4 linked regions of the Homo sapiens genome follow. The protein of the gene in region 4 interacts with the protein of the main gene of each other region in a pairwise test. Each region holds a gene or a part of one and is shown on either strand. Other genes may lie near its edges.

What was found.
Region 1: the proteins of SDCBP2 (region 4) and YTHDC1 interact in binary tests that used the Homo sapiens proteins (3 or more experiments, as listed by UniProt).
Region 2: the proteins of SDCBP2 (region 4) and CRY2 interact in binary tests that used the Homo sapiens proteins (3 or more experiments, as listed by UniProt).
Region 3: the proteins of SDCBP2 (region 4) and NFU1 interact in binary tests that used the Homo sapiens proteins (3 or more experiments, as listed by UniProt).

What each region holds. Positions count from the first base shown.
Region 1 is NC_000004.12:68,312,071-68,319,094, reverse strand, and holds part of YTHDC1 (YTH domain-containing protein 1), read left to right. Parts: intron 1-232; coding exon 233-269; intron 270-341; coding exon of another isoform or gene 342-365; coding exon 366-405; intron 406-513; coding exon 514-576; intron 577-2,646; coding exon 2,647-2,781; intron 2,782-4,771; coding exon 4,772-4,996; 3' UTR 4,997-7,024. UniProt on the Homo sapiens protein: Regulator of alternative splicing that specifically recognizes and binds N6-methyladenosine (m6A)-containing RNAs.
Region 2 is NC_000011.10:45,864,471-45,871,494, forward strand, and holds part of CRY2 (cryptochrome-2), read left to right. Parts: intron 1-3,141; coding exon 3,142-3,282; intron 3,283-5,035; coding exon 5,036-5,347; intron 5,348-5,582; coding exon 5,583-5,734; intron 5,735-5,859; coding exon 5,860-6,062; intron 6,063-6,371; coding exon 6,372-6,464; intron 6,465-7,024. UniProt on the Homo sapiens protein: Transcriptional repressor which forms a core component of the circadian clock.
Region 3 is NC_000002.12:69,434,433-69,441,555, reverse strand, and holds the start of NFU1 (NFU1 iron-sulfur cluster scaffold homolog, mitochondrial), read left to right. Parts: upstream 1-4,120; 5' UTR 4,121-4,133; coding exon 4,134-4,195; exon of another isoform or gene 4,196-4,285; intron 4,286-7,123. UniProt on the Homo sapiens protein: Iron-sulfur cluster scaffold protein which can assemble [4Fe-4S] clusters and deliver them to target proteins.
Region 4 is NC_000020.11:1,326,130-1,333,929, reverse strand, and holds the start of SDCBP2 (syntenin-2), read left to right. Parts: upstream 1-4,790; 5' UTR 4,791-4,845; intron 4,846-7,800.

The sequences.
Region 1 (7,024 bases), on a different chromosome or scaffold from region 4:
ACCTATCTGAAAGCTTCTCTAGCAGTTTACAATTCTATGATATCATTAGTTATTTCCTAGATTATCATGTAATCTGAGAAGAAAATTTGAAAATGGGATAATACAGTAGTAGCATCACTTAAAGTACATATTTCATGGAAAGAATTGAAACGAGTGGTAAGGAAGGTTTAATTATAATGCCATAAAAGAAAAATATAAATTTGATTTACTAAAATGCTTGATGTTTGAACAGGGTATTTAAAGGATCCACGATACCAGGAAGTGGACAGGTAAGTCGGGTTCACTCTTGCCTAGTTTTGAATTACATTCTTGGAACTAGTTTATGAATTACCTGAATTTAGTTTCACAAATCTTATTCCCAACAGACGATTTTCAGGAGTTCGCCGAGATGTGTTTTTAAATGGGGTAAGCATTTCATTTTATCTATTTAATGTGGATAAAATCAGGCTCTGATTTATTTTGCAGTTCTGTGATAATTTTTAATTATATTGACATTATCATCTTTTATTTTAGTCCTACAATGATTATGTGAGGGAATTTCATAACATGGGACCACCACCACCTTGGCAAGGAATGGTTTGTATTATTCTATTTTTATAAGTTACATAACTTAATTTGCAGTTCTAGTATTTCAGGTGCTTACTCGGAATATGATTGTTACAGTTACTCATTAAAGAGACTTAAACTGGCCAGGCGCCGTGGCTCACACCTGCAGTCCCAGCACTTTGGGAGGCTGAGGCGGCTAGATCACCTGAGGTGAAGAGTTCGAGACCAGCCTGGCCAACACGGTGAAACTGAAACCTTGTCTCTACTAAAAATACAAAAAACATTAGCTGGGTGTGGTGGCGTGTGCCTGTACTCCCAGCTACTCGGGGAGGCTGAGGCAGGAGAATTGCTTCAACCCAGGAGGCAGAGGTTACAGTGAGCCGAGATTGCGCCACTGCACTCCAGCCTGGGCAACAGAGGGAGACTCCATCTCAAAAAGACTTAAAATACAGATTTTTGATGATAAATAATTGTATGCTGTCTTTCAAACTAAAGACTAAAAGCTCATTTGTGTTAATAGTACAGGCTTGAGAACTGTAATAGTGTATTATGGTAGTAATTAGTAGTGCAAAGTCCGCTTGGGTTCAGATATATTTCTTTTTCTTCCCAACTCTGTGACTTTGGGTTAATTTCTTAATACAACTCTTAGTTTTCCTCATCTGTAAAATTCCATGGGCATTCACTGATGCTTTGTCTTATCAAATATAATATTTAGTACTTACTCTGTGCAAGGCACTGTGCTTGTTCTGATTATATCATGGTGAATGAAATTGACATCATGACTGTCCTGGTATAGCTTAAAATTTAATGTAGTAGTGTCATTTTCATTGTCAAGATAAATTTACAAAGTACATGTTAAGTTTAGCATAGTGCCTGATCTAATACTCACTAAATTTTCTGTGTAAAATAAGATTAATTAAACCCTGATTATTCCTGCTTTTTAATTATTTCCTTTAAGAAAACTGAATTGTCTTAGAGTATATTTTAAGATATTGAAGATAGCTGAAGCATTAATTTTCAAGAAATAAAAACCTGGAAGTTGAAGTAGCTTCTACTGTTTTCTTACATTTTAATTTATGTCTTTTTTTAAATGCAATATGTTATATGGCCTCTTCATCTGACTTTTGTTTCACTTTTAAGGTATACAGTTTTATACTATTATATGCAGATGATTATGAGACTTTTCCCCTTTAGATTCTAGGAAATTTTAAAAATTTAATAATATATGATCTTGATAGTAACTATGAAAGTAATCTTTAATTTACCCTTTATTCATTTTTTAAATGGCATTTAAAAGTTAATTTGCTCCTGGACTTTTTTTTTGAGAGACAGGGTCTCATTCGGTCTCCCAGGCTGGAATGCAGTGGTGTGATGATAGCTCTGTGCAGCCTTGAACTCCTGGGCACAAGTGGTCCTGCTGCCTCAGCTTCCTGAGTAGGTGGGACTACAGGCACATGCCACTGTGCCTGGCTAATTTTTTTATAGAGACAAGGTCTCACTCTGTTACCCAAGCTGGTCTCCAACTCCTGGCTTAAGGGATTCTTTTCCCTCAGCCTCCCAAAGCACTGGGATATGGGCGTGAGCCACCACACCAGGCCTGTTGATGTTTCTAAGAACAGATACATACAAAGTGGTTAACCAGTTTACCAACTGCAGAACTAGGATGCCTGATGCCGTATGCCTGCTTCACCACTTTAACAGTAGTGTGACTATAAGCAGGTTACTTAACTCCTTGTTGCTTCAGTTTTCCCTTTTGTAAACTGGGAACAATAGTATCTATCTCATAAGGTTGCTGTGAGAATTAAATGAGACTAGTAAAGTGCTTAGAACAATGCCTGGCTCACAGTAAGCACCATGTAAGTGTTTGCTATTTCCATTGTTATTTATATGATAGGAGTAGAAAAGCATAAACATGTTAAATCTTAGAAGATGTGTAATTTTCGACAAAAAGCATATTTTGAAACACCTTAATGCCATCAAAGTAAATGTCTAGTACAGATTCACTTGTTTGGGATTGGTGTTTTGGATGAAGGGTTCTAAGAATCGCTTGTTTACAAGGGTGTTGGTAGATTCTTAATGTAAATGGTTTTCCTTTTTTAGCCCCCTTACCCAGGAATGGAACAACCTCCACACCATCCTTACTATCAGCACCATGCTCCACCTCCTCAAGCTCATCCCCCTTACTCAGGACATCATCCAGTACCACATGAAGCAAGATACAGAGATAAACGAGTAGTAAGTGCACAAGGAGGCAAAGGTGTGAGGGAACTACTTAGAATTCTGTAGGTAACTTAAATATGGGGAGACCAGAGTATGATGATTGACGGACCATTGCATATTCTTACTGCAGACTGTTTTGGAATAATTGTTTGTTTTTATTAAAAATGCCTGATTATGCCCCTTTGGATTATATAGATAGAATATATTTCTTTTACTGATCAAATCACAAACTGCTTAAGGCAAACGCCTACAAATAGAACTCCTTTTAGGTAGTACCTAGGCTATGTTCTTTCCATATTGAGATCTTAATTATGCTATGTAATTAATATTGTTAATAGATATTTCTGAACTTTTTGTGTATTCTTACTCAATTTTTCTAGGATAGATCGTGTATATTAAGTTAGCTGATAAGCTGTAATCTCATTTAGTCATTTGTTTTTATTTCTACCAAATGTTAAAGCTAGTAACTGATAAATTGTTTTACCTCTGGTTATTGTGATGTTAGCAAAGAATAACCAGATGTTATGATATGTAGCAGACATGTCCTTTATTCATTGATTCTGTTAATTATTTGATAAGATTGATGTGAAAGCTTTTTTTGATGGCTTCAAAACAGGACCAGTGAAAAAAAGACTCTAGTTTTAGTTTGAGTTTTCTGGGTTTTTAACTAGTGGGGCTGAGTTTATTAAATGCTTCCCCACCCCCCCCAATAGTACTTTTATTTATAAAGCAGAATTGTCTTCTGGCAAGTGTTGGAAGCATAATTCATATGCATATAAGTTTGATAGCCTTAGAAAGGTAGTTTTGTTGTTAAACTAAGTAGGATATGCAAGTTAGAATTTTTTTCCACTCCCTACTTAGGTTGATGAGTCTGTATGGGGCCAAATAAACATCTTTTTATTTTCCCACTTAAGATGAAGAGTGGGCCTATTTGTGAGAATCAGAGCAGCTTTCTAGCCTATCTTTGAGACATTTTTTTGTGTTGTCAGTAATTTCCTTATAAAGATAGTAATTTTCTCTAAATCAAATCTTATCATGACTTCTAACATTCTGTAAAATAATTTGAGAGTACTAGTTAACTAATTCACAAACTTTAAATTAGTAGTTTATTTTCAGTTAAGCACACAAGAAAGAAATATACAGTCTATCTATAATGAAATCTTAGTTGACTAGATGGGTTGTGGTGTCTTAAAAATTCCCATAACTGATCACATGGCTTTTAAAATAGGAAGTCTGAGATTTTTTTGTTTTCCTCAACTATATCCTTTTTAACAAGTTCTATTTTATGGATCTTTATGTAGTGATTTTTTGGTTAGTATACATATTCTCTACTTACATAATCACATATATAAAAGGTAATGTGGGACTGTGTTTTCAAATCTTATTTCAGCTAAGTTTTGAGAGAAGACCAAAATCAGTAAGGTAAGCTGAGAACTAAGAGTAGAAAGTTTAAACTAGAGCAGGGGCCAAGTTTAGGAGCAGCCACAACTTTTCTTGCACATCAACTTAGTTGTAACAATTTAGTTTGAAAGAAAATCTGGAACATAATACTCAGTTTGTAAAATTGAAGTTGGTAGAATTGGAGGAAAAATGTAGAGCTAGCCTGTGCCAGAAAAACATTGATGACATTTAGCATAATTGGCAGTATATATGGATAATAGTTGAAGGTCATCACTAGTTAATATCTTTGGCCTAAATCTTACTGAAGGGATCAGATGGAAAAGTCATTAAAGTTAAGTGGAAAACTGCATAAAGAGATTTGAATAATCTGTTGTAGATGTCTAATGAGGCATCATCCTTTTTCTAAACCATGTCAGCATATTACCTTCTGTGAATTAATTTATTATTGCATTTCTTTGGATTGTTCTCTCCGCCGATTATAATACAGAGACTTTTCTTTTTTTATATTTTAAAATTGTTTATATAAATTTTTTTTTCAAATCAGGGATCCACTTAACACTATTTGCCTTTTTGACATACCTAACACATTTCTTTCCTTTTCTAGCATGATTATGATATGAGGGTGGATGATTTCCTTCGTCGCACACAAGCTGTTGTCAGTGGCCGGAGAAGTAGACCCCGTGAAAGAGACCGGGAACGAGAGCGAGACCGCCCTAGAGATAACAGACGAGACAGAGAGCGAGATAGAGGACGTGATAGAGAAAGAGAAAGAGAGCGATTATGTGATCGAGACAGAGACCGAGGGGAGAGAGGTCGATATAGAAGATAATGGGCTTTTGGAAGCACTGATTGTTTAAAGATACAAAAAATCTTGTATTTTTTTTTTGTGTGTGTTTACAAGTAGTAAATTTATTTTCAGCTGTCTGCCTATGAAGTTCATTGTGTAGAAGGATTTATTATGACCCCCTTTGTTCCAAGCATGCAGTATCATAAGAACTGGAAAAACTCAAATCCGCCAAAAATCCACAGCTGACAGTTGAATTGACACTTTTATTGGGGCAGAATGGAACAGTCCAAGAATGTAGATACTGATTCTTTCTCCATAAATGTTCTTATAGTGTGTTCATCCTAGAGTTATTTTTTTGTTTGTTTTTTTCCTTTTTGGATCTTGATTGATAACTGCCATGATATTTTGCTTTGATGTGTTTCTACATGTAGTTGCACACGGTTCAGTAAAAATAATGCTGCTATCGAGTATGCAAATATTGAAGTATGATGGTTTGACTGTATGGCAGTGTTGTAGCAGCCTCTTGTTTTTTTCCCCATTGCCTCTTTTTTTAAAAAACTTATAAAGTCACTTTTTATTTTTCCTCAGTCTTCAATGACGAGAGCAATATTAAGAAGACATTGCTATCTAATTTTTAATCTTTTTAAATGAAAAATTCCTATGTTCAGTAGCGTGGTTGATGCTATTGTTTAGCCTTCCCCTCCAAATTGTATACATTGGCTTGGAATGTTCACAACTTGCGTGCGTGGCAGCGGAAGACGATTCCCATATTCTACATTGCTACTGTTTTGTATAAAATAAATTGGTAAAGATTGACGGTTATCTTTTGTATCTTTTTCTTATCCAATTGCAGGTTTGTTTTATTATGCAATAATGGACATAAAAGCATGCTTTTTGTTCAGGAATTTTAGGAACCCCATTTGCTTTTTTTGAGGCACACTTTAGCAGAAATGATTGACCTAGGCCTGTTGCATTAAAAGCTTACTTCTATTTCTAACATAAGATACACAGAGTTATGTTAATAATTTGGTTAAGTATTTATACACCTGATAACATTTTGAGTCTACTCTGATCACAGAATCGTTTATTTAGGTTTTCTATTTGTTGTTTTAGTCTTCTGTAAGTGAACGACTTTGTACATGCTTTCTACTTTACTTCATAAATGGACTTTTAACCCTCTTGTATTAGTTCTGTATTTTAAGTTAACTGTCCAGTTCTCCCAGTGGTAACCAACTATAACATAGAAATAGAGCCGCTCAAGAAAACAGTTTATGAAATAATTTTTTTGAATTTTTTCTTGAGTTACACCTGGAGTTTTGGCCTTTGGAATTTGGCCTTTATAAACATTAGGAATATTTGAATGTTTGATTTTTTTATAGTATCAACAGTTGTACTGTGTACCAGATCACATAGTACAGTTTTACATTTAATCTATATTGGCCTGAAAAGAACAACACAGGCACTTTACTCTTAAAGGATATAATAAACTATAGTTATACTGCATTCATATTCATACCAGCATGTAGTATCTTTCCCTGCATTCACAGAAGTTTTATTTACAATGACAAAACTAAAGCCTGAGGATTTGTTTTAAATCTGCATTGTGGTAGAGAGGAAAAAGTACTTTTAAGGAAACCTGGGTTCTAGTTTTGTCATTGTCTTTAATTAAACCGGTTAGTGATACATGGTAAGTCACTTCATTGGCATTTTGTGTATTCATCAGTAAGCTAGACAAGATGATAGCTACAGTTTAAGAATTTCTGTAACCATTATACAAAACTGGTAGGTAATATTAAAGGTATTTTCCTGAAATAATAGGAATAAATACTGAGCACTTTGTATGCAATAGAGACTTTGTGCTTTTATATACAGACTCATTTAAATGGGCTCAGAGAGGCTAGTAAACTTGCCCAAGATTAGAAAGGTAGTAATTGATGGGCCAAGATTTTACCCATGTTTTTATTTGGTGTTTCTAAACCACCTCATCACTTTTGAAAAAACAGTATATAAATTAATAAATGTTTTGGAGATGGAGTCTGTCGCCCAGGTGGAGGGCAGTGGCATGATCTT
Region 2 (7,024 bases), on a different chromosome or scaffold from region 4:
TTAGCCGGGTGTGGCAGCATGTGCCTGTAGTGCCAACTACTTGGGAGGCTGAGGTGGGAGAATCACTTAAGCCCAGGAAGTCATGCCACTGCACTCCTGCCTGGGTGACAGAGAGTGGGGTCTCAGAAATAAAAGAAAAAGAATCCCAGCACTTTGGGAGGCCGAGGCAGGTGGAGCACTTGAAGTCAGGAGTTCGAGACCAGCCTGGCCAACATAGTGAAACCTCATCTCTACTAAAAATACAAAAACTAGTTAGGCATGGTGGCGAGTGCCTGTAATCCCAGCTACTTGGGAGGTTGAGGCACGAGAATCGCTTGAACCTGGGAGGCGGAGGTTGCAGTGAGACGAGATCATGCCACTGCACTCCAGCCTGGTTGACAGAATGAGACTCTGTCTCAAAAAAAAAAGAAAACTGAGTAGCTGGGATTACAGGCTCCCACAATCATGCCTGGCTAATTGTTGTCCTTTTAGTAGAGACAGGGTTTCACCCTGTTGGCCTGACTGGTCTCAAACTCCTGACCGCAAGTGATCCTCCTGCCTCAGCCTCCCAAAGTGCTGGAATTACAGGCATGAGCCACCACACCCGGGCAGAAATAAAGTTTTTTAAATGGCCAAGACTAAATTGTAATACCTAGGAATGCACATTTGGGTAAAAAAAAAAAAGCTACTTAAACACAAAGAATAACTGTGAAAAGATAAAGTCCTTCCTTTCAAACGTTTTGCCAAAATAGAAAAATGTAAACATTTCAGAAATGCAGAACGTGTTTATTATAAAAGCTGAGGTAGGGGTTGCATATACTGGGGGGCAGGAGGGAACTATTCCTGGGATGAGCACATAGACTCTTGGGGTGGCTGTCAAAGCTCTGTTTCCCAAACCTTGGTGGCTATTGCGTGGATGTTTGCCTTAGAATAATTCATTAAGTCACACATGTGTGTGATTTTCTGTATCCAAGTTTCATTTAAAATAAAAATATTTTAAAAGCTGGGGGCTAGCAAGGGTGTGTACACGCAAAAATACCTAGTATCTGTTAGAAGTGCTTAACCTGATACCACAGGGGTTACCTGCAGAGGAGGAAGCCTTGAGGTTGCGACTTGAAGGAAGAGTCTCAGTTAACCAGGTGAAGGTGAGGGAAAGGAAGACAGTGGTCCAGAGGCAGCTGCTTGTGCAGAGGCAAAGGCCAGTGAGAGCAGATGCGTAAAGAAGAGGGGCAGCAGGAGGCGGAGGGTACAGTGAGCCGAGATCACACCACTGCACTCCACCCTGACCCTGTCTCAAAAAAAAGGGGCAAGAGACAGAGCTGGAAAGGCCTGGGTGCTGGGGAGCCACAGAAGCTTTCATGAAGATTTGGGCTCTGTCCTCAGAGCAACAGGAAGCCCACTGTGTACATTATCCCGAGCAACAGGCATTACATTACTCTGGTCCCAGCGTGGAGAATGAGTTAGCGGGGGATGGGAGTGGACGCAGGGAGGCCAGTCAGGAGGCTGCCACAGTTGTCCAGTCTAGATATGACCTTAGCCTGAACCAGGTTGGTGGCAGCAGGGAATGGAAAGAAAAGGACAGATTTGGGAAATATTTAGGCAGTAGAATTGACAGGACTTGGTGAGGGGACAAAGGTGATGGCTAGGATTGTGCCTTGGGCAGCTAGGTAGCTAGCAGTGTATTATCTGAGGTAGGGAGGCCAATGGAAGGGTGGGTTAAAAGAAAAGGGCACATCTCCCTTGAGCTGCCTGAGAGGCAGCCAAGTAGAGGTTTCTAGCAGGCAGCTGGGTGGAGCAATCTGGGCTAGAGCTATGGATGTGGTGGTTGTCTGCAAAGGGGTGGAACTGGGAGCCATGGGCCTGGATGAGCTTGCTGAGGCACACAGTTGAGTAGAGAACCTAGAGCTGAGCCCTGGGTACCCACATTTAAGGGAGAGGCAGAGGAGGTGGAGCTGATGAAAGACCAAGAGCGCCAGGCAGCTGGGAGATACCAGGAGATGTGGAGTCACAGAGGCCAAGGAATCAAGAGGATAAGACAGCACAGTTGGCAGGTATAGCGCTGCTGAGAGATCCCAAAATACAAGGTCAGAAAGTGCCTGCAGGACTCAGTGGCACAGAAGTCACAGGAGACTCTTGTGGGAACCAGCCTTGTGGTCACCTGAGGTTTGGAGTTAGAGACCAGCCTGGCCAACATGGCGAAACCCCATGTCTACTAAAAATACAAAAATTAGCCAGGTGTGGTGGCAGGTGCCTATAATCCCAGCTACTCAGGAGGCTGAAGAGAGTCAAGGTTGTGAAACAGTATCATGGAGAGGAGGAGAGGATGTTGGGAGTTAAGAAAGTGGAAATAGGCCGGGCACAGTGGCTCACACCTATAATCCCAGCACTTTGGGAGGCCAAGGTGGGCGATCAGGAGAATCCCTTGAACCCGGGAGGTGGAGGTTGCGGTGAGCCGAGATCACGCCACTGCACTCCAGCCTGGGTGACAAGAGCAAAACTCTGTCTCAAAAAAGAAAAAAAAATAAATAAAAAAAGTCGTGAGAGACTGCATGGAACAGCAAGTCAGGAAAGTAAAGTCCTATGCCAGCAACCAGTGATGATAAAAACATGACCAGTAATGTTATATGACACATGGCCCCAGAAATGAATGATTCCATTGGTCCCCAGGAATGGATTGGAAGTTTCCTCCTTCCCCAGCTGCTGTTGAACAATAATGCGAAGTCCCTGGTGTCTGTGATACAACCTCAGGGCCGCTAGTGACTAGAGAAGGGACTGAGATATTCTTTTCTGTAACATAGAAGCCTTGTTTCCTGCTGTATAATTAGAGAGTTCATTCAGTGCTTTCAGAATTCTTTCATATCTCATTTTAATCCACAGAAGATTGGAAATTTTGTTCTTATTTAATAGATACGTAGCTGAGGGAAGTAACAACGTGTTCACAGTCACCCCACAAATTAAAGAGCAAGTCAGAGAATGACATAGACTCGTTGTTTGGTCTGATGGTGGTTCCGTCTCAAAATCGGCTGGACAAGCACAGTGTTCCATGGCTCCATGGCTGGCTGTTCTGTGACCGTAGGCAGATTCCTTAACCACCCAATGCCTCCATTTTTTCCTCTGTTACATCCAAGCCTTTCCTTTTGCCACCTTCTCTTTCTGCTGTAGGCCTGGGTTGCCAACTATGAGAGACCCCGAATGAACGCCAACTCCCTCCTGGCCAGCCCCACAGGCCTCAGCCCCTACCTGCGCTTTGGTTGTCTCTCCTGCCGCCTCTTCTACTACCGCCTGTGGGACCTGTATAAAAAGGTAAGGGGGACATACCTGCCCACATTGCACCTAAGGCCTGCAGCCAGGCCTTTTGGGCTTGTCAGTCACCCTAAAAAAGGCACTGGTGGGTGGGGGTTGGGCTATGGCCCCTGGAAGGGCCTAAGTGTGTGCAGATAGTCCGGAGGAGGAGAGAAGACTCAATATCCAAGAGGGCAGAGCCAAGCACAGAGTGAACTGCCCACCAGAATGAAGCCCAGACCATCATGTAGAGCAGAAGGACAGGCAGAAAAGCAGGCCTCAGGTGTGACCCTAGAGGTGGCATATCCTCTGGCAGCTGGTGGACAGGGGCGAGGTCCCCAGGGTGAGAGGCATGGAGAGGGTGAGGCTGGAGCCAGTCTGAAGTGGAAGAGCATAGCTGCCCGCTCTGGAGCTGTGTCCACAGCATTCAAAAGGGGAGTCCAGGAACAGCAGTTGCCCATCAGTGATGGAGGGAGTGGTGTGGAGGGGCTGCACACAGGGCTGTGCTATACAGACAAGAAGCAAATAAGCCTGTGTTAACTGTCCCCAGAAGGAGAGAGGGCAACACAGTCAGCATTCAGAGGGATCACCTCATCTTGTGCCTATGTTTTTTGTTTCTGTTGTTTATTTAAGAGACAAAGTCTAGCTGTGTTACCCAGGCTAGAGTGTAGTGTGGCCTGATCACAGCTCACTGAAACCTCAGACTCCTGGGCTCAAGCAATCCCTCTGCCTCAGCCTCTCAAGTAGAGCTAATTTTTTACATTCTTTGTAGAGATAGGGTCTTGCTATGTTGCCCAGGCTGGTCTCGAACTCCTGGGCACAAGCAATTGTCCTGCCTTGGCCTCCCACAGTGCTGGGATTACAGCCGTGAGCCACCATGCCTAGCCGTTGTGTCTACATTTGTTTTTTTGTTTGTTTTTGAGACAGGATCTCATTCTGTCACCCAGGCTGGAGTACAGTGGTATGATCACAGCTCACTGCAGCCACAACCTTTCAGGCTCAGGTGATCCTCCTATCTCAGCCTCCCCAGCAGTTGGGACTATAGGTGCATGCCACCACACCTGGCTAATTTTTTGTATTTTTTTGTAGAAACTGGGTTTTTCCATGTTGCCCAGGCTGATCTCAAACTCCTGGGCTCAGGCCATCCACCCACCTCAGCCTCTCAAAGTGACAGATGCTAGCCACCACACCTGGCTGTATCTAGGTTTTTAAATGTTATCTCCTCATCCTTGCCATTATTGAGATTTTGTGGCATGGGATAGCTTTGCCAGTTTGGTGAGTAATCTTGTGACTTTAGGGAAGTCATTATTTGCTTGGAGGTCTGATTTCTTAATTACCTTATGGCCCCAGATCCAGGCTGTGTGTATAATTTATTCAACCAAAATCTAGACTGAGCATTTTTCATGTGTGCTGATAGGAAAATTCCTTTTGACTTTCTAGAAGGTGGAGCCAAACAGGGAACTCTTGAGGACAAGGAACATGACCAGTCTTGGGAAGTTTGAATCCTAGTGCAGAGTCCTGTGGTGAGGCCCCTTCCCACTGCCTGGCCCTCTGTAGCTTTCTTCTTGCTCAGAGCAGTGGCACAGTGCAGGCAGGGCCTGGGTGTTTCACATGCAGGCATGCTGTGCCACTTCTAGGGGATAGTCCCTCCACATCTGGCAGCTGAGCCACTAGGTCTTTGGAGGGCCCAGATTCCTTTGTAGAAGAGACCTGAGAGGCACCATGCTAAGAGCTGGGCGAGTGTTTGTATCCATGTGCCACCCCTACCTCTCAGGTGAAGCGGAACAGCACACCTCCCCTCTCCCTATTTGGGCAACTCCTATGGCGAGAGTTCTTCTACACGGCAGCTACCAACAACCCCAGGTTTGACCGCATGGAGGGGAACCCCATCTGCATCCAGATCCCCTGGGACCGCAATCCTGAGGCCCTGGCCAAGTGGGCTGAGGGCAAGACAGGCTTCCCTTGGATTGATGCCATCATGACCCAACTGAGGCAGGAGGGCTGGATCCACCACCTGGCCCGGCATGCCGTGGCCTGCTTCCTGACCCGCGGGGACCTCTGGGTCAGCTGGGAGAGCGGGGTCCGGGTGAGTGCTCTCTCAACGAAAAGCTGGCCTGTACCCTCTGGTCAGGCCCGTCAAAGGGCAGCCCCCTTCTGGGCTGAGGGATGAGGTGGGATTTCTGGGTCCAGGAGATCCCCTCCAGATCCTCTGTGGCTTGCCTTCAATGGAAGGGTTTTGGCTCCTGGGGGCACTGTGGTGACTTGGGAAAAAACATGGCTGCATGTCCCCAAGGAGGCTGATCATCCCCTCCCCTATCTAGGTATTTGATGAGCTGCTCCTGGATGCAGATTTCAGCGTGAACGCAGGCAGCTGGATGTGGCTGTCCTGCAGTGCTTTCTTCCAGCAGTTCTTCCACTGCTACTGCCCTGTGGGCTTTGGCCGTCGCACGGACCCCAGTGGGGACTACATCAGGTGAGGATACAGACCAGGCTCTCTGGCCTCTGACCACTGTGGCCTCCTACTAGGATGGGATACCCTGGGCCTTTTGAAGGAGGGTCTGGGTATGCTGATGGGTCATCTGGTGTATCTTATTTCAGGCGATACCTGCCCAAATTGAAAGCGTTCCCCTCTCGATACATCTATGAGCCCTGGAATGCCCCAGAGTCAATTCAGAAGGCAGCCAAGTGCATCATTGGTGTGGACTACCCACGGCCCATCGTCAACCATGCCGAGACCAGCCGGCTTAACATTGAACGAATGAAGCAGATTTACCAGCAGCTTTCGCGCTACCGGGGACTCTGTAAGGAGACAAACACCTAGCTCACTGAAGGGAAGGACAGCACCTACAGGCTCAGGGGGCCAGATGGGGATGTCCAGATACTTGCAAAGGGAGACTGAGTGCTGTCTTTCAGGTTGACACCTTCGCTGGGTATGGGACACTGCAGGCTGGGATGAACTGGGCCTTCCTGAGTAGTTGTGGGGCTGTGGGAGGAAATGGAACCTCAGTGTCTTGCTCCTACCCTCCCCACCCCCACTTGCTTCATCCTGCCCTGTAGCCCTCTGCAATCCTGCGAGACGGCACTCTGATTACTCCTCGCCTCTCTCCCAGGTCTACTGGCATCTGTCCCTTCCTGTGTGGAAGACCTCAGTCACCCTGTGGCAGAGCCCAGCTCGAGCCAGGCTGGCAGCATGAGCAGTGCAGGTGAGCAGCAGCAACCAACCTCCTGTGGCCTCCTGTGGCCTGTGCCACCACTTCAGTCATTCAGGACTGAGGCCAGAAGGAGGCCTTGCCCAGTGGAGCTTATATTCCACCTGGGGCAGTCAGATAGTAAAGAAACCAAGTTGGATCATTTCAGATAACAAGTGCTTTGGAGGAAAAGAAAGTTGAGTATCTTGACAGAGGGACTGGGAAAGAAGGATTTCTTCTGTGTCACTTGAGATTGGAGCAGTCAGGGAACACCTCTGTTAAGCAGAGACCCACGTCATGAGCAGGAGCCAGCCCTGCCACACACTGAGAAAATAACATTCCAGACAAAGGGAGTAGCAAGAAAAAGCTCACAAACAGTACCGAGCTTAGTCCATTCAAGGAACCGAAGGGAGGTCAGTGTAGCGGCATGTCCCAGTGAGGAGCTGGAATGAGATGAGGACAAGATACAGCATGAGCAGCATGTGGCAGGCCTGATGTCCGAGACGAGGACTAGGATTCAGCCTTCAGTGCACTGAAGGATGGTCAGTAGGGCAGGGCATGATTGGACTTAGGTC
Region 3 (7,123 bases), on a different chromosome or scaffold from region 4:
AAACTCTTAGAACAGCCATGGTTAACCTAATGCTAGATGACGAGTTAGTGGGTGCAGCACACCAGCATGGCACATGTATACATATGTAACTAACCTGCACATTGTGCACATGTACCCTAAAACTTAAAGTATTAAAAAAAAAAAAAAAAGAACAGCCATGGTTAAAGACACAATTGACAAGGAAATTTGGTTATTTCTGTGGCACACAACGATGTAACATAATAATCATAATTATTACTGATGTCATATACTAAGACATACCAGAATTACAGGAATCTCACACAATTTTGAAACACACATTAATAACTCATTCATATAAATATAACCCAAAGAAAGTTAAACACCATTTCACATTTGACAATGCTTCCTCTCCCCCACATAGCGTTCTATTCCCTTAGTGCCTTTGTTGATTTACAAATCTTCTCCAGGAGCTCCCTGAGACCAGGAATTGTTTTGTTCATCTTAATATTACTCCACACAGGATTTTGATCATCTGTGAGTAACAGGAAACCTAATTAAACAGTACTGTAGGCAAATATTGACCTAAAAGAAAGAAGCTGAGGCAAAATTAATATAGAGAATTTATTTGGGCCAAGGTTGAGGACTGTAGCCCTGGCCATATTGCAGGTTGCCTTGGAGAGTGCTCTGGGAAAAAAGGAGAGGCTCAACTTTTTAAAGAAAAAGAGACAAATCAGGGGAGAGGAACAATTACAAAAGTTGCTCATCAGGTATTCTCATTTGACTTTTTTTTTTTCTTGAGACAGGGTCTCATGCTGTCACCCAGGCTGGAGTGCAGTGGTGCAATCACGGCTCATTGCAGCCTCAACTTCCCAGGCTCAGGTGATTCTCTCATCTCAGCCTCCCAAATAGCTGGCACTACAGGCATATGCCATGACATCTGGCTAATTTTTTGTGGAGACATGGTTTGTTTGTAGAGACTCCCAAGTGCTGGGATTAGAGGCGTGAGCCACAGCACCCGGCCCTGATACTTTTCTTTTTTAGGCTAGTCAATGGGCCTCATAATTTAAAGGGGCTCACCTTCCTCAGATAACATGTTTTTATTCTGCCAGGGTTAGTGGCTCATGCTTGTAAACCCTCCATGTTTCCCAGCATGGTCTCAAACTCCTGGGCTCAAGCAATTTGCCCACCTTGGCCTCCCAGAGTGTTGGGATTACAGGTGTGAGCCACCATGCTCAGCAGGTATTCTCATTGGTTTACAGAAATAACATTGTTAGTGACTGGCCATGCACTGTTGAACTATAGGGTATATGGCATGTTAACGGCTTCTTGACATTAGTCTAGTGTATACATAGCAAGTGACTTCAAGAAGTTGTTACTTAGCTCAAGGGCGAATGAGATATTACTGCTGCTACATTTTAAATGCCTCTCTGGGCCTGATACTTTTTCTAGTGCAGGCTTGTGGTGCAGGACTGGCAGGCAGCTCTGCTCATGGCCCTGGCATGGGATCCACTAGGCGAAGCCAGCTGGGCTCCTGAGTCAGGTGGGGACTTGGAGAACTTTTATGTCTAGCCAGAGGATTGTATATGTATCAATCAGCACTCTGTGTCTAGCTTGGGGTTTATGGATGCACCAATCAGCACTCTGTATCTAGCTAATCTGGTGGGAACTTGGAGAACTTTTATGTCTGGCTAAAGGATTGTAAATACACCAATCAGCACCCTGTGTCTAGCTCAAGGTTTGTAAATGCACCAATCAGTGCTCTGTGTCTAGCTAACCTAGTGGGGACTTGGAGAACTTTTACTCTAGCTAGAGGATTGTAAATACACCAATCAGCACTCTATGTCTAGCTCAGGGATTGTAAACGCACCAATCAGCACCCTGTCAAAACGGACCAATCAGCTCTCTGTAAAACAAACCAATCAGTACTCTGTAAAATGGACCAATCAGCTCTCTGTAAAATGGGCCAATCAGCAGGATGTGGGTGGGGTCAGATAAGGGAATAAAAGCAGGGTGCCTGAGGCAGCAGTGGCAACCTGCTTGGGTCCCCTTCCATGTTATGAAAGCTTTGTTCTTTTGCTCTTTGTAGTAAATCTTGATGTGGCTCACTCTTTGGGCCCGTGCTGTCTTTATGAACTGTAACACCCATCGCAAAGGTCTGCAGCTTCACTCCTGAAGTCAGTGAGACCACGAACCCACCAGAAGAAACAAACTCCGGACACATCTGACCATCTGAAGGAACAGACTCTGGACACACCATCTTTAAGAACTGTAACACTCACCACAAGGGTCCATGGCTTCATTCTTGAAGTTAGCGAGACCAAGAACCCACCAATTCCGGACACAGTAGCACAGAGGCTGTGGGTGGTTTGACTAGAGCAGGCCCTAAGAATGGTGGGACATAGAAGCCTCGTTTCAGGGGTTTGAGGAGTGGGAAGTGAAAAACTAGAGACTAAGAGTGCAGACCATTTTTTTAAGCCACTTGGTTCTGAAGGGAAGAAAAGAGTGTGGAAGAGGATTTGGGGCAAGGCAGGATTTTTCTTATGATAAGGAATCCATCAGAGAGGGAAAAATTGAAGTCTGAGAAGAACGATTGTTCCAAGGTGGAAGAGCCACATTTTATTTTTGATTGAGGGTCAAAAACAGAGCCTTGGACTGCCTTGCGGTCTAGAATGGGTGTGTGTGGGGGGGTGGGTGGGGGGTTGGATGGGGGAAGATCACTGGGTGGGGGGTTGGATGGGGGAAGATCACTAGTAGTTAAAAGCAAGTACGCAGCATTGGGAATGAACCAAACTCGTAGGAGGCACAGCCCACTCAGTGTGCGGGCCCGGGCGAGCTGCAGGCCTGAAACCCACCCACCCTCTTAGATGTGTCTGTGGGCCATAGAAATTACTAGGGTTGTCTTGGGTGTGGCCTCAACCTGTTCAACAACAGGTGTGCTGTTTCCATTCTGGAAACCAGTCCTCTGTCTTCCAGAACAGTGATTCTCAAATTTTAGCTGGCATCAGAATCCTGGGAAGGGTTTGTTAAAACACTACTAGGCAGGGTGAGGTAACCTAAGAGCTTTTGGAGGCCCAGGTGAGAGGGATCACTTGAGGCCAGCAGAGTTCAAGAGCAGCCCAGGCAACACAGGGAGACCTCTTCTCTACAAAAATACTACTACTACTACTGCTAATAAAAGCCAGGCACCGTGGCTCACACCTGTAATCCCAGTGCTTTGGGAGGCTGAGGCTGGAGGATGAATCACTTGAGCCCAGGAGTTGGTTTTGGTGAGCTATGATCGCACTCCTGCTCTCCAGCCTGGGCAACAGAGATAGACCCTGTCTCTGGAAAAAGAAAAAAAAAAAAAGCAAGTAACAAAGATTTCTAGTCCCCACCTACAGAGATTGTGCCTCAGTAAGTATAAAGTGGGGCCCAGGATTTCTAACATGTTCTAACGTGCATTTCTAACGTGTTCTCCTGCTTTTTTTTGGCCCCTAGTCCGCACTTTGAGAACCGTTGTCCTAGAGAAAACGGAATACTCCAGGAAGGTTCTGGAAGAATAGGTAATGGGCTTTGGCACTCTGCCCTGGAAACTAGTCAAGTCTCATGTTAATCGGAGAAGGGCAGCACTGTACCAGATACATCCTCTGTGCGGGTTGGTCCAAGATGACCAAGTGGCAGCTGACAAGCACAGCTATGAGGAAGGGTTAGACACAGTTCCACATCAGACCCATGGGAAAAGGGCAGGAGAAATGCGAGAACCTTTTAGAAGGAATGCTCCAGGGAGTCTTTGGGGGCAGTCACTGAGCTGGGCCTGGAGGCTGAGTAGGGTCCTAGAGGAGGGAATGGGTCAGGTTTAGGGGCTGGAAACAGCATTCGCAAGGCAGCACCAGCACCAGCTAAAAACCTAGCCAACAGGGAAAACAAAGTACGGAAACACGCATGCGTTCACAGTGCTGCGTGAATTAACCAAGCGTTGGCGCAAACGGGAAAGGTTCCCCGGCCTCTCTTGGTCAGGGTGACGCAGTAGCCTGCAAACCTCGGCGCGTAGGCCACCGCACTTATCCGCAGCAGGACCGCCCGCAGCCGGTAGGGTGGGCTCTTCCCAGTGCCCGCCCAGCTACCGGCCAGCCTGCGGCTGCGCAGATCTTTCGTGGTTCTGTCAGGGAGACCCTTAGGCACTCCGGACTAAGATGGCGGCGACGGCCAGGCGGGGCTGGGGAGCTGCGGCTGTTGCCGCCGGGCTGCGCAGGCGGTAGGTGACGAGCCTGGAGCTCCGAATAGGTGTGCCGCTGGGCTTAGCCAGCGGAGCGGTCGCCGCCTTGCAGACCCTCTCTCGAGGCGGGTGGGTAGTGCATCTGATGGAGCCGGCGGGTCCGCCCTGTCGCCGTAGTTGGGGGTGAGCCCTGAGGCTGTCTGTGCGGGAGCTCGGCGCTTCTGTGGCCTAATCCGGGCGGACTCTCTGGAGCTTCCTCTCAGGCTCAGAGACCCAGTTCTTGAGTCTCTGCGGTACGGAAGCTTGTAGAGACTGGCTGTAGAGCCAGAACGGAGGAGCTGTTTTAAAATCGTGTGCCTCTCCCGCCCCCAGGCCCTCTACCGGGTGCATTCCCTCCTCTTCTAAACGCAGAATCAGAATGTCACACAGAAGGGAAGAAAATACCTTGTCTCGTTTCCTCATTTTCCCAGTAAGGCCCTGAAAGAGGAGGTGACATGTCCAAGGTTACACAGTTTCTAAGTGATGGAATTCCGACGAGAACCAGGACCCCTAGATTCCCTGCACCCACCACCATTAAGCCCACTCTGTTCCCTTGTTTTTTCCGCCTCCCTGAGCCCTACCTTTGAGTTTCACCTTTCAAAGACTTCTGTGAACATTGCTAAGAGGACATTTATGTAGGTGTACCTTAATTTTACGTCTGGAGAAAATGGCCTACGGAGAGTTTGCCCTCTAGAGTATTAGACATTGTAGTGTTAATGGTGCTCTTGAAGTTTAAATGTATATCCTAAAAAGATTTAAGTTGGTAGAATTTTTTGTTAGTTACCTCCTGTGTTTGAGTAGATGTCTTCCTTGAATAATGTAATCCACTCTTACTTTAAAAAAACAAGACTTTAAACCTGTATGTTGGAATGTGCTTCCTCTTTATTCATTCTGCTGCCTTTTCCCTGGGCTGAAGGGACGAGAATATTATTCTTCTAGTGCATTTCCAAATTCCAGAGTATTCACAGATTTAGATACTGAGCTATAGAAAAAGGCATTTTTACCCCAAACCTTGAACTGCACTCAATTAGTAATTATTGGGCACCAATTAAATAATGGTAGCAGCTGCCATTTATTGAGCACTTACTGCATGGCCTGGCACTGGTTTAAGCACTTTACATGGATTCTCTGGATTATTTATGAGGTAGCTGTGAAACTAATCTCATTGTAGAGATGAAGAACTGAGGCCATTGTGCTAGCAGCTAGAAATGAAGATAGTTTCTCCCCTTAATGAGTATGCAGTCTAGCAAGAAAAATATATTAACAAATAATGACAGTCATGAGTGCTGTAATAGATTCATGTAATTTAAAGTGGTGTGCCGGGCGTGGTGGCTCACGCCTGTAATCCCAGCACTTTGAGAGGTCAAGCTGGGCGGATTGGCTGAGGTCAGGAGTTCGAGACCAGTCTGGCCAACATGGTGAAACTAAAAAAAAAAAAAAAAAAGCTGGGCGTGGTGGTGTGTGCCTGTAATCCCAGCGAGTTGGGAGGCTGAGGCAGGGGAATTGCTTGAACCAGGGAGGTGGAGGTTGCAGTGAGCCAAGATCACGCCACTGCACTTCAGCCTGGGTGACAGAGTGAGAAAAGCGAGATTATTTCCATCTCAAAATAAAGTGGTGACAGCTCTTACTGTGATCAACACTGGAGCTAGTGTGGGGAGTGGCAGTCAGGACTTCACAGATTATTTGATTCCCATTCAGTGTTGATTCCATTGTTCTCTTGAATCCTCGGTGCCAATCCTTTTATCTCTCCAATAGCATCTAAGAAACTCTATGGGTTACAGTCCCACAGTATCCCAGTAGTCTTTTGCTTATCAATGGCATATAAAGATTATTGAAGGTAGTAAACAGTTCATCTGTATTTTGTTAATACTTAATTGGTGCCCACTCTTTCTTTTCCACGAGAAGAATTCCAGTTTTGTGAGAGAGAGAAAAAAATGTGGCAGCCGCTGTTGCTTCTTGCCTATTTTAAGCAGAAGATAATTAGATAAATGTGATCTTGTGTATGATCACAAACAATTTTGGCCTTTGGAAAAAATTTTAACAGAAAATTATGACAGTGAAAGACCGTTCTAACTGACCATCATTTTGCCTTTAACCTCTAGACTGCCCATTCCCGGGCTTGGGCCAAGCTAACTTTGGGAGACATTTAGTTTATAGTTTAAATGATAATAGCCCTTTCCCAAAATTAAACCACCTTTATAAAGCTAATGAAAGACCACCAGGTTTGGAGGATGAGAGGAGCCTGAATTCTGCTAAGGTGTAGATGTAAATGATTACCAGCCATTATTCTGGCGGTCCTAAGAGTTGCAACTTCCCCAATTACTCCTGCAGAAAACATCTCTCTTGTAGAACCTAAGATTAGCCTTTTCAGGTTTTTGCATTTCTGACTGGTCCTGTGGCCCCGCCCACAAACGGGCTGAGCACTCAGGAGGATCATTTTCCGCACCCCTATGATTGCATCCCCAACCAGTCAGCAACACCCGTTCCCTGGCCTGCCAGTCTATCCTTGAAAACCCCTAGCCTCAGATCCAGAGAGACTGAGTACTAAAACTCCACTCTCCCTTTCAGCTGGCTCCATGTGAATTAAACTCTTTATTGCAAATCCCCTGTCTTGATGAATTAGCAGTATCTGGACAGTGGGCAAAGTGAACCCATTGGCAATTATAAATGACTCCTGTACTTAAAATTTTTCTATGGCTCCTATGAAGTGGCAGTGGTAATGGATAGCGATGATATTTTCAAGTAAACCGGATTTTAAAGTAAATTGCATTGGGATTTTAAGAATTTTTACTATTAAAGTCTCCTTTTACTTCCTTTTCCAGTAATATTTGCTTTCATTTTCTTCCTTTGTTTTCAGTTTGTCAAAGCCATAAAAAATAGCCAATTAAGTTTTCTCTGTAAGAGTGAAGTAAAGTTAGAGGCCTGGCG
Region 4 (7,800 bases):
CAGAGCTGGCTGGCAGACACTCTGGAACAGAGGCCTGAGGTTGTTATTAATGTCATCCTCCTATATTTCCTACTCTTTGCCTTCCAGGCATGTGGTGGGATGGCAGCTCCCTGTTCCCTTGTGATTGGGAGGTGGGGTAACCTGGCCAACAAGGTGTGAGAAGTGACATCTGTCATTTGGGCTGGAGCACTTAATTGCCAGATAGAGATCTCTTTCCCTCTGCCGTGGCTTCTGACGGCCTTTGAGATGGCAGCTGCTCCATCACCCCCAGTCCTGGAGTAAGGAGACATGGGGACCCTGCCAGCCCTTGACGGGTAGTAGCGTGCATGAGAATGACACTTCCTATTAGGAGCCACCAAGATTTCAGGGTTGTTTGTTGCTGCAGCATAACCTGGCCTACCTTAACTCACACACATCTCCAAAAAGCAAAACCAAGATGGAGCTCAGAAATAGCATGAAGGACATTGTGTTTGGAGACCAAATGCTCATAGTGGACATCTTTGGTGTTCACGCCACAGGAGGGACTGGAAGTGGCAATAGAGTTGGCCCTTTGTGGGGCCTTAGTACCGTTAGGGCAAACCTCAGAGAAAATCCATCCAAACTCTTCCCTGGCCAAATACGGAGACTGAGGTCCAGAAAGGGCAGGGCTTCACAGCATGCTATAGTAGAGGCTGGCACAGAACCTGCTAACAATAGACTGCCTCCATTTCCCAGTCTCCCATGCAGCTCTATGTGGCCATGTGATCAAATTTTTGCCACCTAAGGACTTCTTTGTGGGTTTCTTAAAGAGAAATCTGTGACTCAGCTGCACTAGGGTAGGAGACTCCTAGAGGTTCAGAGCCAAGGCCTGGCCTTACCACTCTTGGGGTGTGTTGCCTTGGGCAAAGTGCTTCACTCTGAAGCTGGGAATTATGGTGAACAGATGAGATCAGTGTATGCCCAGTGCCCAGCAGAGCACCCAGTGTGCAGGAGCTCAATAAATGCTACGCTTCCTGTTATTATTTCAATTCAGCAGTAGGAACAAAGCTGTGATGACATAAGCCAGGGTCTTGCTGCACTACCCAGATTCCATGCAGAGGGCTGGAGTGTAGAGCAGCTCCTTCTCTGCCCAGCCGACATTCTCTCTTCTTCTGGGAAGAGCATCTCTATTTTCACTCCAATCAGATGACTGTTTCTGTGACATGTAGCCATGAGAAAGTAGGAAACTAACATTTACTAAATGCCAGCTGTGTCCTAGGTACTTCACATGGTTACCTCATTTAGTCTTCAGGATAAGTCTATAAAGAAGGTAGGTGTGGAAACTACAGCTCAGAGAGGTTTAGTAACATGTGCAACATCACAGAGCTGGGACTCAGATCGGATGCCCCAGCCCAACCCATCTTTTAAATAAGGGTCAGCCATTTAAGTTTCTAACTGTGATTGACTTTTCTAGGAGGGGCATTTATTCACTCAGTCAATATTTACTGAGGCCAGGTGTGGTGGCTCACGCCTGTAATCTCAGTACTTTGGGAGGCCAAGGTGGATACATCCCTTGAGCCCAGGAGTTCAAAACCAGCCTAGGCAACATGGCAAAACCCCATCTCTACAGAAAATACAAAAATTAACCAGCTGTGGTGGCATACGCCTGTGGTCCCAGCTATTCAGGAGGCTGAGGCAGGAGGATTGTGGGAGGCTGAGGCAGGAGGATCTTGGGAGGCTGAGGCAGGAGGATCGTAGGAGGCTGAGACAGGAGGATCACTTGAGCCTGGCAGACAGAGCAAGACCATATCTCAAAAAAAAAAAAAAAATTTACTGTGAGCCTGCTATGTGCCAGGCATAGTACTAGGCCTCAGGGTTAAGACAAGCCCCTGCCATCATGGAGCACCCATTCCAGATGGCATGGAGACTTCACCTCATGAGCCAACTCTAGGTGACGGTAGCTGCCTGCAGCATTATGACGAGAGGATCCGGAGAGGCCTCTGGGCCCAGCAGGAAGGACATTAGTGGTTGATTACTCAGGGTGCCATGGGTGCTACCAGGGAGTTTCTGAGTGTGTGCTGTTTACTGGCCACCCAAAGTTTTAGACTTGTTCATACAAATATATAACAAAGCAGAAATATTGTCTGGTCAGAGCACAGTTCCACTCCTTATTTTGAAAAGAGTAACTGGCTGGGTGTGGGGTCTCACACCTGTAATCCCAGCACTTTGGGAGGCTCAGGCAGGCAGACTGCTTGAGCCCAGGAGTTTGAGACCAGTCTGGGCAACATGGCAAAACCCTGTCTCTACAGAAAATAAAAAAATTAGCCAGGTGTGGCAGTGTGAACCTGTCGTCCCAGCTAATAGGGAGGCTGAGGTGGAAGAATCCTTTGAGCCTGGGAGGTGGAGGCTGCAGTGAACCATGATTGCACCACAGCACTATGGCCTGGGTGACAGAGCGAAATGCTGTCTCAAAAGAATGACCACTGTAGAGCTAATAACTTGGCCCTGCCCTCAGGGAACTTAGGGTCTAACTAGTAGCCTAAAAGGTACACATGAGTACAAGATGATGATTATTAAAGAATGGAACAGGAGCGTCTGATCCAGAGTCAGAGGCGGGAGAGGCCACATGGATGTGGGGGATCCCAGAGGCTTCCTGGAGGAGCTCAGTGGTGGATGTGGCTAGGTGGGTGGGGGCAGGAGAAGGTGTTCCAGGGGCAGCAGCAGGACAGGCAAAGGTATGGAGTCAGGGCAGGTAGGAAGTGGGTGTGCAGTGGGGCAGGAATGGTGGGGCTCCCAGTCCAGCTGAGGCAGAGGTGCTGGGGGAGTGCTGAGGAGGTAATAAAGGGAGTGGGCTGTGGAGGTCTCCATGTCAGCCCTGGGAGTTTAGCCCAGACCCTGAAGCAGGAGGGAGCCACTGAAGAGTTCGAGCAAGGGCATGCCCAATGAAAGATATTTCCAGGTGGCTGGAAGTCAGTGATGGGTGGCAACTATCCAAAGAGGGAATAGAAAGAGAGTCCCTGTAGGTATTAAATAGGTGGGAGTTAGGGGACCTGGGCTCCATGCTGACATGCTGGGACCACAGGCAAGCCCCTTACCTGGAAGGGCCTGCTTCCTCCTCCCTCTTCTATAAAGGCCCTTTCAGGTCATGACTGAATGAAGTGAGGTGGGGGAGGAGTGGCTTGGTTTAGTTAGGATCTCTATTTTCCACTTTGCTTTGGCCTTGGACACCTGACCTAAGGTGGGTCCATCACCCACGTTACCTCAGCTTCAGGCCCACACAGCTTACTCTGAGGTTGCCCCACACCTCAGCTTTCTGAAACAGTATGTCCCATAGAAGAGAAGACATGAACTTGGCCCACTTTCCAGCTAACTTGAGAGAGAAACTTTGCCTCTGTGCCTCAGTGTCCCCACCTGGAGGAATGGTGTGAGTCACACCTACTCTGCAGGGATGGCATGAGAAGCCATTGAGATAATGCCTTTAAAGTGCCAGGGGTAGAATCTCTGTGCTCTCTGGGAGTAAGTGCTGAATTAGTGGCAAATGTCTTTCTTGTTATTATTCCTATTGTGTGTTTCCTGTGTGGGACTCTGGGCTGTAAGCTCTTCATTGGCAGGCACAAGATCTGACACCCAAGGCTAGTGCAACTCTGCCAGGTGGGTCATGGGAACTGTGACGTAGGCCTGCCTGGCCCAGGAAGCAGCCCAGATACTGACACACCCTGAGTGTGTACAGCGTCAATCCTCATGGGACTGCCCAGCACACGAGTCCCTCGTCCCTCCCCAGGCACCCAGTGCGACAGGCACCCTCACCCAACCAAACCCACCAGGATCTAAACTAAATTCTTCCTCCTTTTCTGTTCAAATTTATATAATTATTTTTGGAATAAGTAGTACATTTAAACTTTTCAAAATTTAAGACACCAAAAATGTGCCATAAAAAAAAAAATCTCCACCTCAGCACACAGCTCCTTAGGTCTGCTCCCAAGAGACAACCACTCTAAATTCCCATTAAAATAATCAAACTTAATTGCTTCCCCCTTACAAAAGTCATGAGCATTCAGAGCAAAAGCTAACTTAAAAAAAAAAAAACCACCTTGGAACACACAAAAGTACAAACTGAAAACCTCACCCTCAATGCTGCCATTCAGAGATACTCAGCATTTTAGCGTATGTCCTCCTAGACTGCTTTCAACGCACATCCACTTTACAAAAAATGAAAACAAAATGCAAGAAGAGATTCACAATATTGATTTTTCAACATCTCACTAGAATCTCAGAAATGTTTCCTCATACCTTCTTCCTTAAGTGACTTTAATAGCTCTGTGATCTTCCACAGACAATGATTTATTCAAGCAGACCACAGAGATGGGCATTTGGGATTTCTACATTTTCCTTACTAGAAGCAGCAGTGATGGATGGGCCCTGTGACTCCACTGTAACAAATTCCTAGAAGAAATGCTGGGTCACAGGATATGACCACTTTTTAATATCCTGGCCTAGACCCCTAGATACCTATCACAAACCGCCCTCTAGCCAACTGCCTCGATCAGCAGGACTAGGTGTCCAACCCAAATTTAGAGCTATTTAAGAAAAGGCCAAGAAGTCTTGGTTCATAACCGTCTGAACAGCAGCTGTGAGGGCCTTAATCCCACCTCCAAATCCAGACTAAGGCCAAAGGCCTCCTCTGGGCTGGCAACCTGCCTTGTTTACCCAGCCACAGCCCTCACCTGTGCCCATCCCAGTCCAAGGTGAGTCAGCTGAACAGGGGACAGGCACCACCCTTCCCAGATCAGGAAGCCAGCTGAGAGACAGGGCTACGTTTCAGGGAGGGAAACAGATTCAGCAGCGGCAGCAGCTGGAGAAGGTCGTGGAGCAGCACCTTGCCTGCAGGTAAGCGCTGGGGGCCCTGACCCAATCCTGGCTGGGATTGGGATGAGTGAGACCTGCTCTCACCCTGTCCCCTTCCCTCCCTGCCCCTTCCCTTCTGGGACTTCCCAGGCAGCTTCCTTTCGAAGTGCTTCACTCCAAGCAGTCAAGTGTGAAGTGGGGTTTCTTCTTCTGATCCCAGCCCTGGACCAAGTTTGATTAAGGGCTGAGTGATTTTCTTCACCCAGACATCATGAGGGCCCCCGATGCCTTCTGACTGCCCATGACTGTGCTCAAGGAGATGAGATCCACACTTTGCTCCTTGAAAGGCCAATTCCAGCCGAAACCAGAGGCTGCAGGCAGGCAAAAAGCCCATTTCTCCCAAGGAATCCACAGCTCAGGCCGACTTCTCTGGCCTGAGGCTGTTTCTATCAAAAAACCTTCCTGCCACAGCACTGAAACACCTGCTGGGGAACTGCGCCAGGGGCTTCACCTTTCTAAGAACTGGTTTCTTCATCTGGAGACTGAAAATAGCCCACAAAGTCAGGAGAATGGAAGGACATACTGGACACAGGAGCCAGTGCATGCCCTCCTCAGCAGGGTCTCAGAAAATGGGGCAGAAAACGAGCCTGGTATGGGCTGGGCGAGCACTGGACAGGCAGCTTCACGTACAGTGGCCCAAGCTCATGACAATTCCACCACCATCACTTCCCACCTGGGCTCCTGCTCCCACTCCTGCCCTGTAGCCCATCCTCCAAACATCAGCCAGAGGAGGCCTGTCAAAATAACCCTTGGACCTTGGCACTCTGCTGCTACAAATCCCCCAGTGGCTCCCATCTCACTACAGTAAATGCCAAAGTCCTCACCATGACCTCCAGGCCCTCCAGGATCTGGCCCCTCTCACTTCTCCAGCTTCCTCCCCACTACTCCTCCTTACTCCCTCTCTGCACAACTGGCTTCTCACTGGCAGATGTCCTCTAAACACAACACCAACTCCCACCTGAGAGGCTCTGCAATGGCCGTGCCCACCCCATTAGGCCTTTCCTCAAATGTCACCCCACCCAGCCAGCAAGGCTTCTGAACCTCCTGACATGACCCTCCGTCCTGCTCTTTCTCTCCAGTGCCTCCCACCATCTAACACAGCACACAGAGTCACAAAGCCTATTTATCCAGCTCTTCCCCCAAAGAAAGTACATTTGGGGACCAAGTCTTCTTTCCTTCACTGCTGATACCTAGAACAGTACTCAGACTTAGCAGGTGCTGAGTAAGTAAGCGCTGAAACAATGAATAAACAGCTAACTTTTACTGAATGCCTATTATGTGCTAGGTGCTGTGCTAAATGCTTTCCATATACACCTTAACTCTTTTTAAAAATCTTTCAGTCTCCAGACAACTGTGATGCAACTATTGTTATCCAGATTACAAAGGAAGAAATGACATTCAAAGGGGATTTGCCTATGCTGTGCTCTCACAAGTCAGAAGCAGTCAGTCTGAACCCTGCCCTGCCTGGGCCTGGGTTCAGGCGTGTCTGCTTGAGGAAGTCACAGCTTTTCCCCAGCAGGCAGTGCAGCACTGAGAGGAGGAGTGGGGGTACATGCTGGTGGCCTAGCAACAGCTTCTTCTATTCCGACTCACCACATCCCTGGGCTAATTTGGCCTTCCAGGAGCTATTCCTCTGACACTCTAACCCACGCTTCCCTCCCGCGCACTGTCTTGTAAAGGACGGATGAGCTGTCCACAGGAACGAGTGGGAGTTCCATCACTTCAGCTCTTTGGAACAAAGTGTTCCAAAGAGTGTTCTCACTCTAAGTTCAAAGATGGGGGCTGAAGTCCCCTTGTCAGCCCTGCTGATCTCCGAAGCCCAGCTATTGGTTTGTTGTGGGTGTTGTTATTGCTTATATCAAAAAGTACAGAAGCTCAGGGATGGAAATCTGGAAAGGGCTGTGGGAGAGGAAAATTCCTCTGAGAGAGAGGGGTTAGGTGGGTTCTTTTCCTTTCGGAGGAACCAATTACTTGTGGGAAGCCATCAGCACAGAACTGAGCAAACTTCCACTGTCAGATTATAGGAGCCAGGCAGCCTTTCAACCTAACTCGTTAGGGCCATGGTTTCTCTCCTTTTCCAGGCCCAGGTTATTCTTCGAAAGACTTTCTACTTATTGACTGCAAACACAGACAGGCATGGGAAGAAAGACTGTATATTTAGGATATCAGGCTTTCTCTTCTCTCTGTGCCTGCTTTTCCACTCCTTTCAGAAATAGTAATGGGATGCCTGTTGTGTGCCAGGCACTGTGCTCAGCACTGGGGGTTAACAAATGAGTGACATTTCCTGACCAGTGAGGGAGATGAGCAAACAAACACAGCACAGTGGAAATCCAACCTAGGAAATGCAGAAGGCCTTGCTCATAGTAGGTGATTAACAAACACTTGTGGAATATATGATGAAGAGGCAAATACAAGAAATGCTGTCGTCTAGAGAAGGGAGGCTTGCCAATCTCCATGCGTACAGGTGGGGGAAAGCTTTAAATTGGAGGAAAAAGAGTTCACAACAAGGAAAAGAGAGAAGGCATGAATGACTCTTAAGACAGAGGGAATAGCACCTGCAAAAGCATGGAGGCATGAACTAGCAGGCTGACTTTTAGGACTCAACCTAAAGTAGTCTGGAATAAATGAACTTCATGATAAGTGTGGAGAAGAATGAGATGGTGAGAATGGAAACATTACCAGAAGTCAGGTCACAGAGATTTGAGGGCAAGAAGTAGGTATGGCTTCAGAAGGGAAAGGGAGGAGCTGAGGATAACTCCCAGATTTCTGACATAGCCCATGGGTGGATTCAGTGAGACCGCTGGGGAGGCGCGGCACAGCTGGGGAAAATCACGAGTCCAGTTTGGATAATCTGCGAGGTAAACGGGATCCAGAAGGCAACTGGACTCTCAGGCCTGGGCCTCCCTGTCCCTGGAATAGCACACTCTCTTCCCACTT